2 separate regions of the Homo sapiens genome follow, and region 1 is linked to region 2. A link means that fine-mapping ties the variant in region 2 to the expression of a gene that starts in the linked region. Tissue or cell type: whole blood. Region 2 holds a variant in brackets; the other region holds the start of a gene. All regions are shown on one strand. Distances are between the middles of the regions.

The links. PIP is the estimated chance that this variant, and not a neighbour inherited with it, causes the effect.
Region 1: HMBOX1 starts here. The variant in region 2 is fine-mapped to the expression of HMBOX1 in whole blood (INTERVAL, PIP above 0.99).

What each region holds. Positions count from the first base shown.
Region 1 is chr8:28,885,678-28,893,781 of GRCh38, forward strand. It overlaps HMBOX1 (homeobox containing 1), which reads left to right and starts at 4,718. Exons shown (of 10, transcript NM_001135726.3): 1 at 4,718-5,001. It overlaps INTS9 (integrator complex subunit 9), which reads right to left and starts at 4,292. Exons shown (of 17, transcript NM_018250.4): 1 at 4,197-4,292. The coding sequence starts at 4,205. RefSeq lists enhancers at 4,075-4,631, 4,271-4,470, 4,632-5,188 and a silencer at 4,841-4,960.
Region 2 is chr8:29,048,397-29,056,500 of GRCh38, forward strand. It overlaps HMBOX1 (homeobox containing 1), which reads left to right. Exons shown (of 10, transcript NM_001135726.3): 9 at 558-652; 10 at 2,622-4,866. The coding sequence ends at 2,759. It also overlaps the pseudogene RNA5SP260. Among named protein-coding and RNA genes, the nearest start is that of HMBOX1, 160 kb to the left of the region's middle. RefSeq lists an enhancer at 8,075-8,104. The variant TA/T (reference allele first, on the strand shown) is at 3,502.

The DNA of each region.
Region 1 (8,104 bases), 160 kb before region 2:
GATGTTTCAAACTTAATTTCTGTCAACGTGCTCAGAATTTTTTGTTCCATGTTCTTTCGGTAAGGACCTTTGTGAATTCCAGTTTCTATCCTTAGCTGAACTGGCCATCAGCGTACTCAGTTAGGCTCAATCTATACAAATAACAGAACATGCTCTAAAATGTGCTAATTTAAAAGATATATTTCTAATTTTCCTCTGCTTTCTAAAATGATTCTGGTTAACTGAAAATGCCAATGAGTTTTCTTCAGTTAAATAAAGCTGCCTGAATATTGCATATTATAAATACGGAAAGCCACTGAAATCCTCTGAGTTGGTATCTAAGAAGGAGATACCCAAGTATTACGTTATAATGGCATCCATTGTTTTCATGTGGGTGTGTGAAAAGCCACCAAGAGGGTGATGTGCAAAGTTAGAGAATTATAAATGGTATCACAGGAGCTAAATTTGGAAGATAAAAAATACTAACTTCAGCACCAAATTAGTATGCTCTGATATGGGGGCCTTTAGCTCATCAAGAAAGTCCTCAAACTTAAAAAAAATTTTTTTTTAACCAATAACCTTAAAAACTTTTTTTTGTTTTTTGTTTTTGAGATAGGGTCTCATTTTGTCACCCAGGTTGTAATGCAGTGGTGCCATCACAGCTCACTCCAGCCTCAACCTTCTAGGCGCAAGTGATCCTCCTGCCTCAGCCCCTCAAGTAGCTGGGACTACAGGCACATGCCACGACGCTCAGCTAGTTTTTGTATCTTTTGTAAAGACAGGTTTTGCCATGTTGCTCAGGCTGGTCTAGAACTCCTGATCTCAAGCCATCTGCCTGCCTCCGCCTCCCAAAGTGCTGGGATTACAGTCATGAACCACTGCACCTGGCCTGAAGATCTTAATTGAACCACACTTGCATTTAAAGCTAATTTTTAAAAATAGCCTTGAATATATTTTCTGTATGCACTCTACCTTCTTTTTTTTTAAGAGATAACCTAGGCATGGTGCAGGGTGCTAGAGTTCCTACCCTCACTAAATAACAGGGAAACCTGGGTTTCGATCTTGGCTCTATCATTTTTAATCCATGCTAACTTTAAGCCACTTACTTCACCTCCCTGAAGCTCACATTTTTTGTCTGTAAAATGGGAATACTGTCACCTGGATCAAAGGATTAAATGGGAAACTACATAGCAAATACTTAGCACATTGCCTGGCACACAATAATTGCTTTATAAAAGGTAGCTATCATTCCTTTTTTACTTCAATGGTTACTGCTTATTGTAATCTCTTTAATTTCACTCTTTAATCTTTTCTCAAGGGTATCCATAGACCTTGATAAACCTTCAGAAATTATTTACCAATTATTTACACAGAATCTACATGGGGGAGGACAGACACACGCCAATAATTACAAGTGCTACAAATAGGAAGTATGCCATCAAATATATAACAGGGGTACTTAATTCAACGAGGCCCTGAAGAAGTGTTATTTAGACAGAGATCTGAAATATATGAAGAAATTAGCCAGGCAAAAAAGAGTGAGGCAGGCAATGGAACATATTCAACCAAGTTAAGTGTAGGAGGTTATCCTAAGGGCAAAGGAAGATACTGAGAGGGTTTCATGGAACTCTGCAATTAAAACAACTTCCGGATGCAGAGGAAAGAATGAATTTGAGAGGGTTAAGACTGAATGCAGAGAGACCAGATAAGGGGTCTTGTTGAATTCCGATTACAAAGACAGTATTCTAGTTGGACTGGAGAGAAATAGAACCTATTTAAGAAAGCTGCATTTAGGAAGCAGAATCAATAAGAGGTGGTCATAGATTGTGTGTGGGAAGGGTACTCTGGAAAGTGAATCTCAAAAATGAGAAAATGCTAAACAAAATGTGTTTTTGTTTCATAATTATAAATTTAAAACACAGCCTATTACATATTTCTGAAGCAGTACACAAAATTAAAACTTTTAGGCCATGGGAGGACTTATTCCAACCATTTGGGAGGCATGACACACCCATCTAACTTACTGAGCAACAATGCTTTTGGTATGTTGATGGGAATTCTCAATTACATTTATCTATCAACTACCAAATAAATTTTAGTATGTAATACATAGTTGCAAAGTAAAGAGGGAGTATGAGTATCAATAGAATACTTCCTTTTCCTCTGAGACATCTTTGGTTCTTAATGGAAAAAATAATTTTCCACTTTTTTACAATCCCCGGTTTCATATTTCTAAATAAATTAAGCAGGAGGATTTTATGAGCAAACTAAAATATATGTAAAGTAAACCCTGGCTTTTTGATACCCTCACTAATGAGTTGTTATGGGAAAAACTATTTCACACTTCCCTGCCTTCTTAAACTGAACACATTAAATATAATTTGCTCTTTATTGAGAACACAGGGTCCATGCTTTAGCCAATAAGGTACCAAGCTCTTATGCTCCTATAAGCTGACCTCTTTCATGGAAGGCCCTGGCTTACTTATCCTTATCAGTTCAAGAGTCACGTTTCCAGGAAGCTGTCCCCTGACCTCCCCAATCCTCTGTTCTCTGAATTCCCAAAACCCTGAACACGCCTCTATTTCACCATGAACACAGTGAATTATAATTTCGGACCAGGCATGGTGGCTCATGCCTGTAATTCCAGCACTTTGGAAGGTTGAGGTGGGCAGATACCTTGAACCCAGGAGTTTGAGACCAGCCTGGGCAACATGGTTAAACCCCATTTCTACAAAAAAAATAAGCAGGGTGCAGTGGTGCGCGCCTGTATTCCCAGCTATATGGGGAGACTGACGCGGCGAGAGGATCGCTTGAGTCCGAAAGGTGGAGGTAGCAGCGAGCTGAGAACGCGCCACTGCACTTCAGTCTGGGCCCCACAAAGCCAGACCCTGTCTCTAAATAAATAAATAATAACTTTGGTTTACTTTTCTATCTTCTTCTTAGGTTGCATGCTTCTGTAGGGCAACGGCTATGACTTTTAATTCTGCATTATTAAATGTGTAACACACTGACCCAGGGGTAAGTTGCTATTCTCAAGGTTTAGTGACCCGCATCCTTCCCCTTATATAAACAGATTTATACGGGGACAATTTCGGAATTGAATCCACTTTTAATACTTTCTCTGACTTCGCAGAAAACAGCTGGCTTTGCAGAATATATGCCTGTAGCACAATGATTATCAAGATGAGGGTAGGTGTGTTGTGTGGTTTGGCAAAGCATGTTCAGATAATTATATAAATGGTAAAAAATAAACTTTTTTTTTTTTTGAGACAGAGTCTCGCGCTGTTGCAAGGCTGGAGTGCAGTGGCGCGATCTTGGCTTACTGCAACCTCTGCCTCCCGGGTTCAAGCGATTCTCCTGCCTCAAGTAAAGCTTGACAATAACTTGGCTGCACAAATATGGGTTTTAAAAGGTTGAGAAACAGTGTTTCACACCTGCCTTTCTACACTATGTTATTAACTAATTGAATCGAGTTGGAATAAACTAGTTAGACTTGTGTGCACAATGAGTCAAATGGCTCAAATCAAAGGTCTGAGGAGCCTCCATGAACCAGGTGCTTGAGCTGTGTGATGTTAAGACTTCAGGTATACCGAGCACGCTTCATTCAGCCTTGGCTCATGAAGTCCCTACAGTCTTAGAATGGAATACCATATAACACTTCTCTGCCCATCTAAATCCCATGCAGGGTTTAAGACTCAACTTCTCCACACTCTGACCTCGTCCTGAATTCCAAGGGCAGTGAGGAGTCTATATAACAGGATATTTAATAAGTGATTACGTTCTGCTGGATGTTTTTTACTGTCTGCTTAAATCTAGCCAGTCTCAACAACAGTAGGGAGACAGGATACTCAAGCGCCAATCGAATGGAAACGGATTGTTAACAGCCTATTATAACCCTCACGTGGGAACCAGGACGTCCAAACCTGGTTAACAGAGCCCACAGAGTTCATGGGCGAAGGACTGTGACAGTCAACCTCTTGTCTGAACAAAAAGACCCACTAACGAGTGAAAAAAGACCTCCTGGGAGGGATGGGGTGGGGGAGAGGGAATTCAAACCTTCTCAACAACAAAAAGCAGCTTTCCTTAGCCCACTCCACTTTCCAGCTCAATAATTGCTACCCCTCCCGTGCGACGATTCCCTGCCCAACGTAGGAAAAAAAGAGGTCCAAAAGGTTATAGCATCACCTTTGCCCTCTGACCTAGGAGCGAAGACTCACCAGTTTCATAATGGACTTTTGGTGGTTCAATAGCAGTCACTGAACTCCTCAAACCCAGGAAGCGTCTTCCGGTGCAATCTCCGCCACCTGCCAGCCGAGAGCATCGCGGGACTTGCAGTCTTTCATCCTCACGTCCCTTCCAGGGGAATAATGGGAAATGTAGTCTCCCCTCCAGGCATCATGGGAACTGTGGTCGCCTTTCCTTTTCCTCCCTTTCCTCTCCGAACGCCTCCTTCCGTCAGCTCAAATTCATCCCAGCCGCCAATGCATCCTCCCTCTCCACCCCAGCATGATATCATGTCTTCCTTACGGGCCTGGGGCCCATGGTGTTCTGGGATGTGTAGTCCCGACGGCTCCGACTCCCCTTTCCCTCCTCCCAAAGGGAAGGCGGATGGGCACGGGGCTTGCCGGAAGTTGTAGTTCCCTTGGCCCTCTAGGCGCCGGGCTCCGCAATTTTTCTCAGGGGAGGCAGGAACTACAACTCCCAGGGACGCCCGGCGGCAGCAGGTGGGAGAGGGGCTGTTGATATCAATATGGCGGTTGTCAGCCAGACAAAGACAGTCAGTCTGATGTGATTGAGACAAGGGAGGTTTTTCAGGGGGAGACTGGGAGATAGGGGCCTCCCCTCCCCCTTCTCCTCTTCCTGCGCCGGCCTCAACCCCTCCCCAGTCCCCTCCCGACGGGCGCCCCACGCGGAAGACACCCCTCCCCCTCCCGCCTTCCCTCCTCCCTATCTCAGCCCTTCGTACTGGGACGTTGGGGAGGGGGCTGTGCCGGGCGGAGAGAACTCAGCGAGGATTCTGAGGTGAGTCGAGCGGTTTTGAAGCCGGACTACCTCAAGTCTCTTTCCTCACTTCTTTCTCTTCACTTAAAACAATTTTTTTGGAGGGGTTTTGGGGAGGAAGTGAGCGGACGCTGGGGATGGGTCTCGTAAGCGGCCGGATTGAGAGGAGGGAGGAAGCAGGGGGCTTCCGAGTGGGTGACCCAGACGCGGGCTGTGGGGTGGGGCAGTTCGTGGGGTCCGGTCCTGGAAAGGCGTCGACTGCCCCCCAACTCTTCTGGTTTCCTCTACGATGAGCGGAAGGTTTGAATCCTGGAGGTGGGGTCTCCGGTGTGGAGTTCTGGAAACTGTGAGGTGATTTGCAGGTGTGTTGGTTTGTTTGGGGTGTGTAAGTGTGTTTAAACTGTGTGACGTGTACTTGTGTGCTCTGCTCGTCTTGGAGCGGTGTCTGTAGATGGGAAGTTAGACAGCGCGAGTCCTCGCTCGCTCTGGGCCTGGGCTGAGGGGCGGGCGTGAGGTCCTGGTGCTGGGCGTTTGGGCTGGCGACGTGGTGCGAGGCGGCCGGGCTCAACAACTCGCTTGTGTCCCGTCGCCCGCTCACACTCTGCCACTCGCCTCCGCCCCCTCCCCTGGACGAATCTCCACCCCAAACTCCAGCCACGAGAACTGTAGAGATGGTGTGATGTGGAGATGGATTTTTTGCATCCTCAAGTCGGTAGATAGGTGGGAAAGGAAAAGTGTTTCTTAATATTTTATTCCGGAACCGTGTTTTGGTTACACTATTGGGGCTACTTTGAAAGGCGTCCTCCACCCACCTTCACCCCGAAACAGTAGGTAGAGGTATCTTGTCTTCGTGTGAATTAGATGAATAATTGCTGAAGATTCGGGGGGCCTGGGGTGGGGGTCGGGAGTGCTGGATTGTGTACGCGTCTGTGTGTGTCTACTAAGGAGACGGAATGTCTGTTATGTATCTGGAGATAGGGCGACTTATTTTCGTAGCAGGAGGAACTGTTGGAAATTATTTGCGGGAGAGGGGGTGCGCCGAAAGGCGCTGCTTGTATTTTTCTTCTACTCCACCCTGTTCTGTCTTGCATTTGCCTGAAAGCTGGTGGAATGGAACAGTGAAGAAGCATTGGGTGAGTAAAGGGAAGAATGCAGTTGGCATTAAAGATAACACTATGTAAAGTTGAATGGTATAAAGTGATTACTGTTTTTATTTACGCTGAAGCTTAAAAAAAATCACCCATGTATCATATAAGGTAGAGTGATGTGACTAGCTCATTTCTCTGGTATCCTGCAGGTACAGAAACCTCTGGCTTCCCTCTTCCTTCCTTCCTATCCTCCCTCCTTCCTTCCTTCCTTAAGTCCTTCCTTTCTTTCTTGGCTTCGTACAACATTTCTCTTTCTGTTGGACATAATACCGCCTGTGTCTTTTTATTTAGTTTGTGCTAATATGGTTGTGCTTTTTGTGGTTTTACCATAAAATGCATCGTTAAATGCATTTATTATTTTGCATTTATGCTGCAGGTAATTATCACATCAGGATTGCAGTGCTTTGCATTAAACTTATTTTAAAATTGTGCAATTAAGTTGCTTGATCTAGCTGAATTATGTTTCTAAGTCAAAGTTGGGAAATTTGAATTCTAAATTTTTTTTCAAATTTCAATTAGAGTTAAAAAGGAAAGGATTGCAACATCTCTTATTTCTCACAGTTTTTAATATTTAATAACACACTAGGAGAATTTAAGGTCATATTTTGTACTTCCTTATTAAGTTCTTCAATAATCCTTATGTGACAATTTTTTTAGTGTAACGGATTTTTAAAGTAAAGAAATTGGCATAATTTCTATTTCGACTGTTGAGAATTGAATATATTCCCCAAACTTATCAATTCTTGAATCTGCCACCTATCATCAGTAAGGGACCTTTAGATTCTATGATAACTGAAAACCACATTGATAGAGTGTGTAATTTTATGATATGTCCTCTAACCATTGATTTAAAATTTTTGCTGTTGGTCATTCACACAGATAAGGGGGACTGAAAGAGTGAGGTAGCATGTATATTTCAATTGACCTGAATAGAAAAAAAAATGTGATTTCTAAATCTCAGATGTAGAATATACAATATGTTGATTCAAAACTAAGCCATTAGTTTGTGATAGACCAGGATTTTCAGAATCATTTGTTTTAAGCTTGTATCTTAACTTGAAACACTACTTTGCAAAAACCAGAGAAAAATCCTACGTAACTACTTAACGGAGTGTTTTGTTTTATTTTTCTGAAGCATATTATAATAGTCATGGAGTTTTTTAAAAAATGTTTAATAATTATTTTAGAAGTAAAAAACCAACATGTTTGTTAATATTTTAAATTGGAAAAACACGAGTGTTTTCTCTTCCATCTACCCTTACCTCAAAATTTCTTTTTGTTTTGTCTATAGAAGTGCAAAGTTATTTACTTGAAAAAGCATTCATTAAACTTTTTCTGGCTACTAGTGGGATCAAAATCATTACATGTAAACCAAATATATTCCCAGCATTTGTTGGGGGTGATTCTGTTGCATTTTAAGTACTGGGCATTAAAATGATGTAAAGCCTTTACTGCAGGTTAAAGCATAAAACATTCTCAGCATGTGAGAGTCATATGGTTTACAAATAAAGTAGAAAACCAGGGCATGGGTGCTTGTCCAGCTTACAATTTCATCCCGTAACTGTGAAAGACACATTTATTTTAATGTGATTGCTTCTAAAGATGTTGCCTGTATTATGGGAAGTTGAAAATCTAAGCTGCTTTTAACTAATCTGTTGCTAGTTTAGTTTACTGCATTTAGTGAACACTATGTATGGTCACAAATACGCATCAAGGAAAGGAGCCTTTAGCTGGAAGTTGAATGCCTTTAGTGAGGCTTCGTTTTCACTGCTGTACAAACAGATTTCAGTCTTCTAGCCCAAATCCTCAGTTAAAACATCGCTAATAGAAACTTAATAGCTCAGTGTTCCTAAGTTACAAAATATGTGGCAACAAATCTGTCATTGTTACATCATTTAAAAAATAGCAACCAGCTTATGGCAATTTTTGTGGCAAGTGTTGATTGGAATTCTATTGCTTGTTTCATAGATATTGAA
Region 2 (8,104 bases):
GAAGAAATAAAGGATTTGTTCCCATTCAAAACTGTAACAGTAATAAATAAGAATAAGAAATTTAAGTTGGTGAGTCAGGTGGGATGTTGGTTTTTAGCTTCTAAAATTGCATTTCATTTCTTCCATCCAAGTACTAACCAGGCCTGACCCTGCTTAGCTTCCAAGATCAGACGAGATCGGGCGCATTGAGCGTGGTATGGGCATAGAATGCATTTCATTTCCTTCCTTTGTAAATACACTTTTTATTCATCAGTACAGTTCTCATATGCTCTATAGAACCCCAAGATAGGAAGACTGTTTAGTTAGTTAGCAAGTATTTATGAAGCACCTAACATGCACAGCAGCAGAGACCCCAGAATGGCAAATGTGTGCCTCCCCTGACCTACATGCAGTTGAATTTCATCCATCTTACAGTCTAAAAGAAACAAATGTAGAGAAATACAGGTTCTTGTTTAATTACATTCTAATTAATTTCCTTAGCACAAAAATTCATTCAGTGTTTCAGCCATTGTGATAAGGTAACAGATAATTTAGGGATCTATTTGCTTTTTTCGAAGAAGCAGCAATCCTGGAGAGTCATGGGATAGATGTGCAGAGTCCAGGAGGCCACTCAAACAGTGATGATGTCGACGGGAATGACTACTCTGAGCAGGTGAGCCCCTGCGCAGCTGGGCGAGGTTCTTGGTGCCTGAGCAGGGGGTATAGTGGGACAGCTTAGTTCCTTGGGTGTGGCTGATGGGGTGGGGGAGGGGAAACAGTCACTGTCCCTCCACTCTGCTCCTGTGTCTAGTTAGATTTCATGTAATTTGAAAGGAATGTGGTAAGATTCAGTTGTCCTGTTGAATTTGTGAGAGATCGTTATTCACCCACATGGATTTATTGTCATACAACAGGATACTTGGCAAGTACGCAATGGGGAGGAGGAGGAGGGAAGAAGTTCAGAGGGAGGCAGAGAAGCAGAGAAGGTAGAAGAAGAGAGGAGGATCTGATCCAAACAAGCAAGTTACACCATTCACGACACACACTCAGTGTTTGAGAAATACTAGGGGCAGCTGGACCCCATGCCTAAACACGTACCGACGCAGGGCACGATGGAAGGCCCCACTCACTCTGGCCCCACTGCAGTGGGAACCCTCCTGCCCAAAGGAGTGGTTCTTCCAGAGTCTCTGGCACACTGACACATGCATCCTCTCATAAGTGCAATACCTGCATGACTCTTCACCTCGCCCTGATTTATTCTGCATTGCTTTTGGGGAAAATGTATTTAATTGTAGCCACTGCGTGGAGTAATTCAGTAACTAAGACTGTGGGAGTCCCTCCTCGACCCCCACATAGATGTTGACAGATTTCATTAAAATTTTGATAGGATTTAAATTTCCATTTGGAATATGCAGAGAACGCATGGTACCTTCCCCTAGACCACAGCAAGAAAACTTCTGCTCATTTTTCTGGGGTCTGTGCTTTTTTCTTGCTCCTCAGCCAGCTCATATAGTCCAATGTGTTCTTTAATAGCCTCTGTTTACCACACACCTAGAATGCATGCAAGTGTGTGCTGATCCCTTTGTAAATTCTAAAAACTAATCTGTGAACATCAGAAGGAAACAATGATGTCCACACTTCTGAAGAACTACCATTTTTTCCCATTTAGGACTCTAGTTAATAGCCCCAAGAGAATATTCTGTAAGTCTTTCTGTTCGGAAACATTCCTCTTTTCAGTCTACCCACATAGATGGATCATTTCCATCTTTTTTTACAGATGCCCTAAGGGCAGCACATTCCATGTTTTGTTTGTTTTTTTCCTTAAGGGACTTACCCTTTCCAAAGCTCTTTGATACGGAGTTCCCCTGAAGATGACAGGTGAGAAACATACCCCTTATTTGTAACACCATCTTCAGTGCCTGACGTACATCCTGCAATGCCAGCTTCCTTCACAGCTTTATTGTTTAACACATTGAGCTGCGCGGGGAGGACAGCTTCACACTAGTTCTAGGTAAGACGCCTGCCGCTCCCCTTGCACAGCTGCCTGCAGCAGGAGAGCTCGACACCTTCCTCCCCTTTCTCCCGTAGCCGTTTCTGGCAGTGACATGTGTCCTGTTGTAATGGAGAATTCTTTTTTTCTTTTTTTACAAAAATGCATTTTTTATCTGTAAGATGTAATTGTAAGTTCTGTCTAGTTTTCTCAGTTCAGAGAGGGACCATGAATTCTAATAATCTATTTGTAAGAGCAGCAATCTGGAATTTAATAGCTCACTAGTATGGCCTTCAGTGATTAGTGCTATATTTGTTACAAACAGAAAGATCCAAATTGTTGGTTTTATATCAATCACTGCAGGTTTGATCATCATCACCAGCAATCTTATTAATAGAATGAATAGAATTCTCAGTGATGAAAAACATTTTTTGTGCTTTTTACTTGTTGAATCATAAGATTATCAACTGAAAATCTTTGGACCTATATCCATTCAGTGTCTACTTAAATACAATTTACCTCTATTTTATCATGAGCCCCTCCCCCAGTTTCCTCCCACGAATGTTCTGCCTCCCCTTGCCCCAGCATGTCTCTCTGTGACTAAAGAATTCTTCCAATCCACTAATAACATTTCTTATTTCTGCACATCTAGGATGACAGTACGAGCCATAGTGACCACCAAGACCCCATCTCATTAGCTGTGGAAATGGCAGCAGTCAACCACACTATCTTGGCATTGGCCCGACAAGGAGCCAACGAAATCAAGACAGAGGCCCTGGATGATGACTGATCAGGGAGGTTAAACATGACAAGTTAACTTAGTTTAGACGTAGCACCTTAGCAGACTTTCCTCGGTCCTTAACATGTGTTCTTACAGTATAACTTGCAGTTTCTTGTATGTCAGGTAGCTGTTAGGGTCTTGTTCTGTGAAGATGGCATGGTGCCCTCAGCCTTTGCATATACTCTCTCAGTATTAACTCCCAGTAAATAATAACCAACCAACCAACCAAACTTCCCTCTCCCAGCCCCCGAGGCTAGAAAATCTTGCTGCTCCGTCTTAGCATTCCAAGAAAGTGCTTCCAGGTATTTAGATAGCCCTCAGTTCTCAAATATTAGACTACGTGTAAAATCTTGGGTACCTTTAGATTCTTGTAACACTAGTCTGTACTCCCTTTTCCTTCCCCAAGACTGATAGGATGCAAGCTGAGGTCGTGGCACAGGAATGACAGACACCATTTGGGGAGTATCCACAGAGTCAAAGGAACACTAGAATCCCCACCTCAGCGTGAGGATAATTGATTTCCAGCTGCAATAAGCCGTGCCTCATTATAGCCACACTGTGGCTAGATTATACTTCTTTGGGTGCTGTGCTAAGAATGTCAATGGAAAAAGCCGATCTCAGATTTTGTTTGAAGTTAACATGCCTGACACAGACATCCTTTCCTCTCACAAGCTGTGTGACTTAGTAGATAAAATACTGCCTTCTGCCTTTGGGACCATGATTAAAAACAAAGACAAAAACCAAAAGTCAT[TA/T]AAAAAAAAAAAAAAAAAAACCCAGCTTGAGAGCATTGGAAAAAAAAAATATGAGCTGAATGTCTAATGGATGCTAAGTCCAGTTTTCAGAACCACTGTACATTCCACGGCACAGTTAGCAGTGCCTGCCTGGAAAAGTTTTGGAGGTCATCGTGGAAGTTGCTTTGCCTCCTGTCAGTGTCCCCTTTCCCTGCTACCAAAAAAGTCTTTCAAGGATGGAGCTAAGGTCAAAAATGAGTGAAAAAACTTGCAGTGTTTGTATCCATTAAACGGAAGCCCCCTCACTCTGAGAGGTCACTAGAGGACTTCATAGTGGGGTTGTGCTGCTTATCACAGATGCAGACACTTGCCCAGATAGGAGCAGAGAAAAGCAGGGGACGTTTCCTACTCACATTGTGGCTGTATGAGAACACGATGGGACTGCTTTGCTGTTCTCTTTACTCTGTCCTTGGAGAGGTGTGAAAAGCTGTATTGCTACAGGCAATTTATTTAATAATTGGAAGCCATATTGATAATGGATGTGGTAATATTTGTAAAGTTTAATCTACTTTAAGCGGCAGTAACTAATGGAATTTTTTTCCTTGATCACATATGTAGCACTTTTGTTACTTTTTAAAGATATTTATATTTGATAAATCTTTTTTTCATTTTGAGAACTCAAAATACCAAACAGTGAACTTGCATTCTAAAGTCACCCTGTGATCACCTTGTCATCTAGTAGCAAAATGATGAACTATTCATGCATCAAAGAAAATTACATCTGCTGGCCTTGTATGAAAATGATCTCTTGGCATCCCGATTAAATGACACACTGTCACTGTGGGTAAGAGGAAAGAGCCTTCAATGTAGCAGCACAGGGTGCGCCTGAAAGAGGCACAACTGCTGTGGATTTTCTGCCTCGCTCCATCTCTCCTATGTATAATGAAGCCTTGTTTAAAGGGGCATGTGGGGCTGGATGTTAAGCACGGCTTCTTTTTGTCCGTTACCTGAAAACAATTTCTAAGATAAAAGGAAGGTGCCATTTCCTTACCTCTTCACCCATCCTCCTCCACCAAATGTATTCAACTTAAAACTGTGAGAGAGAGAGACTGAATGACCTTCCTCAGTTTTCCCTTTCTCATTCAGGAGATACTGAATATCCGCCAGTTTGTAGTTGGTTTCCTTCCACTTAAGGCACACGCTGACTGCATCATTTCCTTATCTGTTAATCCTGCTTATGTGAGTGTGAGGAAAGTCTTTGAGAGGGCATGAAAGTGCCACCTTATATATGTCTGTGACTTTAAAGAGCTATATGCAGGGCCTGGTCCCACTTTTGTCCATGGATTTCAGGGGGAAAAAATATATGTACTTTTTTCAGCTTCCAAGCATTGAAGTGAAGTGGAGCCGTCTCTTCTGTTTTACTGTATTACTTGAACCAACAAATTCAAGAGTAGCATTTGTTATTCTCAGGAATGAGCCTCCCACCGCCCCCCCCCCACCGACTCATATTCTTTTTTGGTTTATCTTTTTATTTCAATTAGGAGATTACGTTCTCTTCCTTTCCTTTTATTTTGCTTAGAGGAAATGTAACATAGTCCCATTTTTGTGGAATTTTGACGCTTATTCTCAATTGAATCAGAAAGTACAAGGAGACAGAGAAAAAATCCGCTCTGACAAGCCACATCCATGATTGATTGTAAGGGGATTATTATAATTGATAGCTTCTTTATCATGGGATTGCTAGTATCATTTGTACTTGCTGGTCTTTTTAAAGGAACAGACTGACTCAAACTGTTAAGACAGCTGCAGTTTCTAAAGAAATACAAAGATTGCCGTGGATGCACTCAAAGGTTTCATTGTTTTAACACCTTTAAGGGAGAAAAAAAGCTTCAGAGAATAAAGGCAAGTTCGCATCCATGAAGGGCAGTACCAGACCCTATATGGCAATGTGGTAAAACTGAAAGAATATTTCTACCACTGCAGGAGAATGTCCTGGAGAGCTCAGTGGGAACAGGAGGAAGGCATCTTCCACCCACAGTTGTTCTTGTCATTGGAGAAGACCGCTGGCTGCTCTGAAGACCCACTGCCTTACATGTCACTTTTGCTTTTTCACCAAGAGTGAGAATTTACTTCCTTTGGGCCTAGATTTAAACCTGTTAGTTTTCTGTTTGTCACCAAGTTCAATTCTGCCATTTTGTCCAGGCCACCTTGGTTCTTGTAATGGTGTGTGGCGCTGCTACTGTTATATTTATTTCTAGTGTCTTTAGGTAGTATATTTCTCTCTTAGGCTTTTTCAGGTTTTAGAGGTGGAATTAAAATAGAAACCCTAAACTTCCGTATTACTGAAGGGAAAGCAGCCAGGCTCTAAAAACTCACACTGTATGCTTCTTGGTTGTTCCGCCCCTCCCGTTGTACTTCACTCTCTCCTTCAGGCCCCAGGGGACTCCCGCAGGGGCTGTTCCTTCCTGTCGAGGAGGACTTTCAAAGGTCTTTTGAAGTGGGGTGTGGGGGAACTTGCCAACAGGTATTCATATAATTTGTTATTTCTTTAAAGACACCTTAATTGAATTACTATGGTCAGATGGGTAAACTTTCCAAACTTTAAAAGCACTGACACAGGGACCTTTTAAAATGGGTCATCTTGATGAGATCTCTGCCCATCTGTTGATAACCCTAACAGTGGATGAAGGCTGGGGAGGGCAACACCCTGCATTCTTATCTGAGCCCTTCAGTGCTATTCAGTTCCAAATGTTTTGATTTGTTTCAACAAAGTCTGTAATGTTGGAGTGCCCTTAGAGCAATTTTCTTCACAATCAAAATCACAATCCTTTAAGTGGTTAATAAATGTAGTTGCCTTCCACTCACTTATGACTCTGGACAGTCCCCACCCCTGTCACTCACAAGGGCAGTCTTCCCACCCCACCCCCATATTCACATTCCCATGGCCCATCACAGGAAGAAGGAACCTGGGGCAGAGACGAGGAAAATCATTAAGGCAGAGGTGTACACATCCAGTTCTCTAGTTCTTGGTAGATTTATGGTGGCAGCCAGTTCAGTGGTCACCACCACCTATGTTAGGTCCATGTATCCAGATATATTTTACCTCAAAGGAGATGACTGAAGAATTCACCAATATAGTTATTATTTCCTTTCTGCCTGTTTAACATTTGTCTTTAAGAAATATTGGCTTTAGAAACTTCTCCCTTGGATATCAACCATCAGGCACCAAGTACAAACAGACTCATTGAATCAAGAGTCTCCAGCCTCATCCTGTGAATAGCTCCTCTTCTGTTTCCCTCTGACTAGGCCTTCAGCTGACTTCTTTGCTGGAATTTTCTAATCTTGTGACAGCAGGGAAAAGCTGGATGTGGTCCATCTCTTAACACAGACACTCCTCCCTGTCTTGACCAGCTACGTATTCCACTGACCAGCCTCATCATCTCTGCCCTCAACAGTGGAAATGATCTCTTTCCCACAGATGTTCTCCCTCCCTCCTTCCTTCCCTTCCCCTTCCTACAAACGTGAACTCTTAAGTCTTTACTCTCTGGTCTTCAGAAGGGTTTGGTTACAAGCAGTCTTCCCATTTAATTTGTGGCTCTGCCTTTTAAAATTGTTTTTTGTCTTTTGTTGTTCAGAGAACGACCAGAGTATTTTCTCCCCAGTGTGTCCCAACAGATTCTTAGGCAATAATTTTTCTTGTTGATGATCCCGTGCTCAGTAGCACACTACATTGAAGAACCCTGGCCCTCACCATTGTGTGTTGGTTTCTGTGTTAATCTCTGTGATCTGAATCATGTCAGAGTGATGATAGATTTTGTCATTTTGTTGTGATTATTAGTAATGTTTTACTACTGTATTCATTGGGGCTGTGTTGAGACCAGCCAAATCCATTTATAGCTTTACTGAGCCGGATTGATTTGTCAGGATTTCCCAAGTGAAAGTTGGGCATATTGCCCAGCTCCTGCTGGTGGTATCTTTGGGGAGTGTGGGATGGGGTGGGGGGATGTCCTGGGGCAGGGGTGGGAATGACACATATAAGGCATTCCATTTTTTTTTTTTTTTTTTTTTTTTGCTTGTGCTTATTAAATAGCAAGGGTGTTTACTCAGGATTTGGGGATCAGTTGTAGCCATGTTGAATTTGGCAAACTGAGCTGTGTGCCCTGAAAGCCCTCTTTTTATTTCTTCATTTCCATATTGTCTGACTTACTTCACCTAGGAATACCTGAGTTATCCAGTCCAGTGTTCCCTGATGAGAGTGGAAGATTTTCCTGGAGAGGCAGCTGTGCATGGCCAGGTCATCTGTCAGGATGTTGTGGTGGTGTGTGATCAGAGCAGAGGGCCTTTCTTTTCCTGTACTGTGCTCTACTTCCTTATGCATGCTTGGTTTCAAAGATGACCGCCACTTTAAAAGAAAGATTTCCTCACAGCTCTCCAGAGAACTATCATACTAAGGTGATAGGAAAGGCTTCTCGGATACAAGCCAACAAGTCAGTTTTCTGATTACAGAAACTCCTCTCACAGGTTATGTTTGGAAAGGCTGTTCTCCATTCCACTTATAAATTGAAAGTGATAAGCTACTGTCTTGTGATCTTGCAGGGCCAGTGGTTGACTCATCTCTGAAAG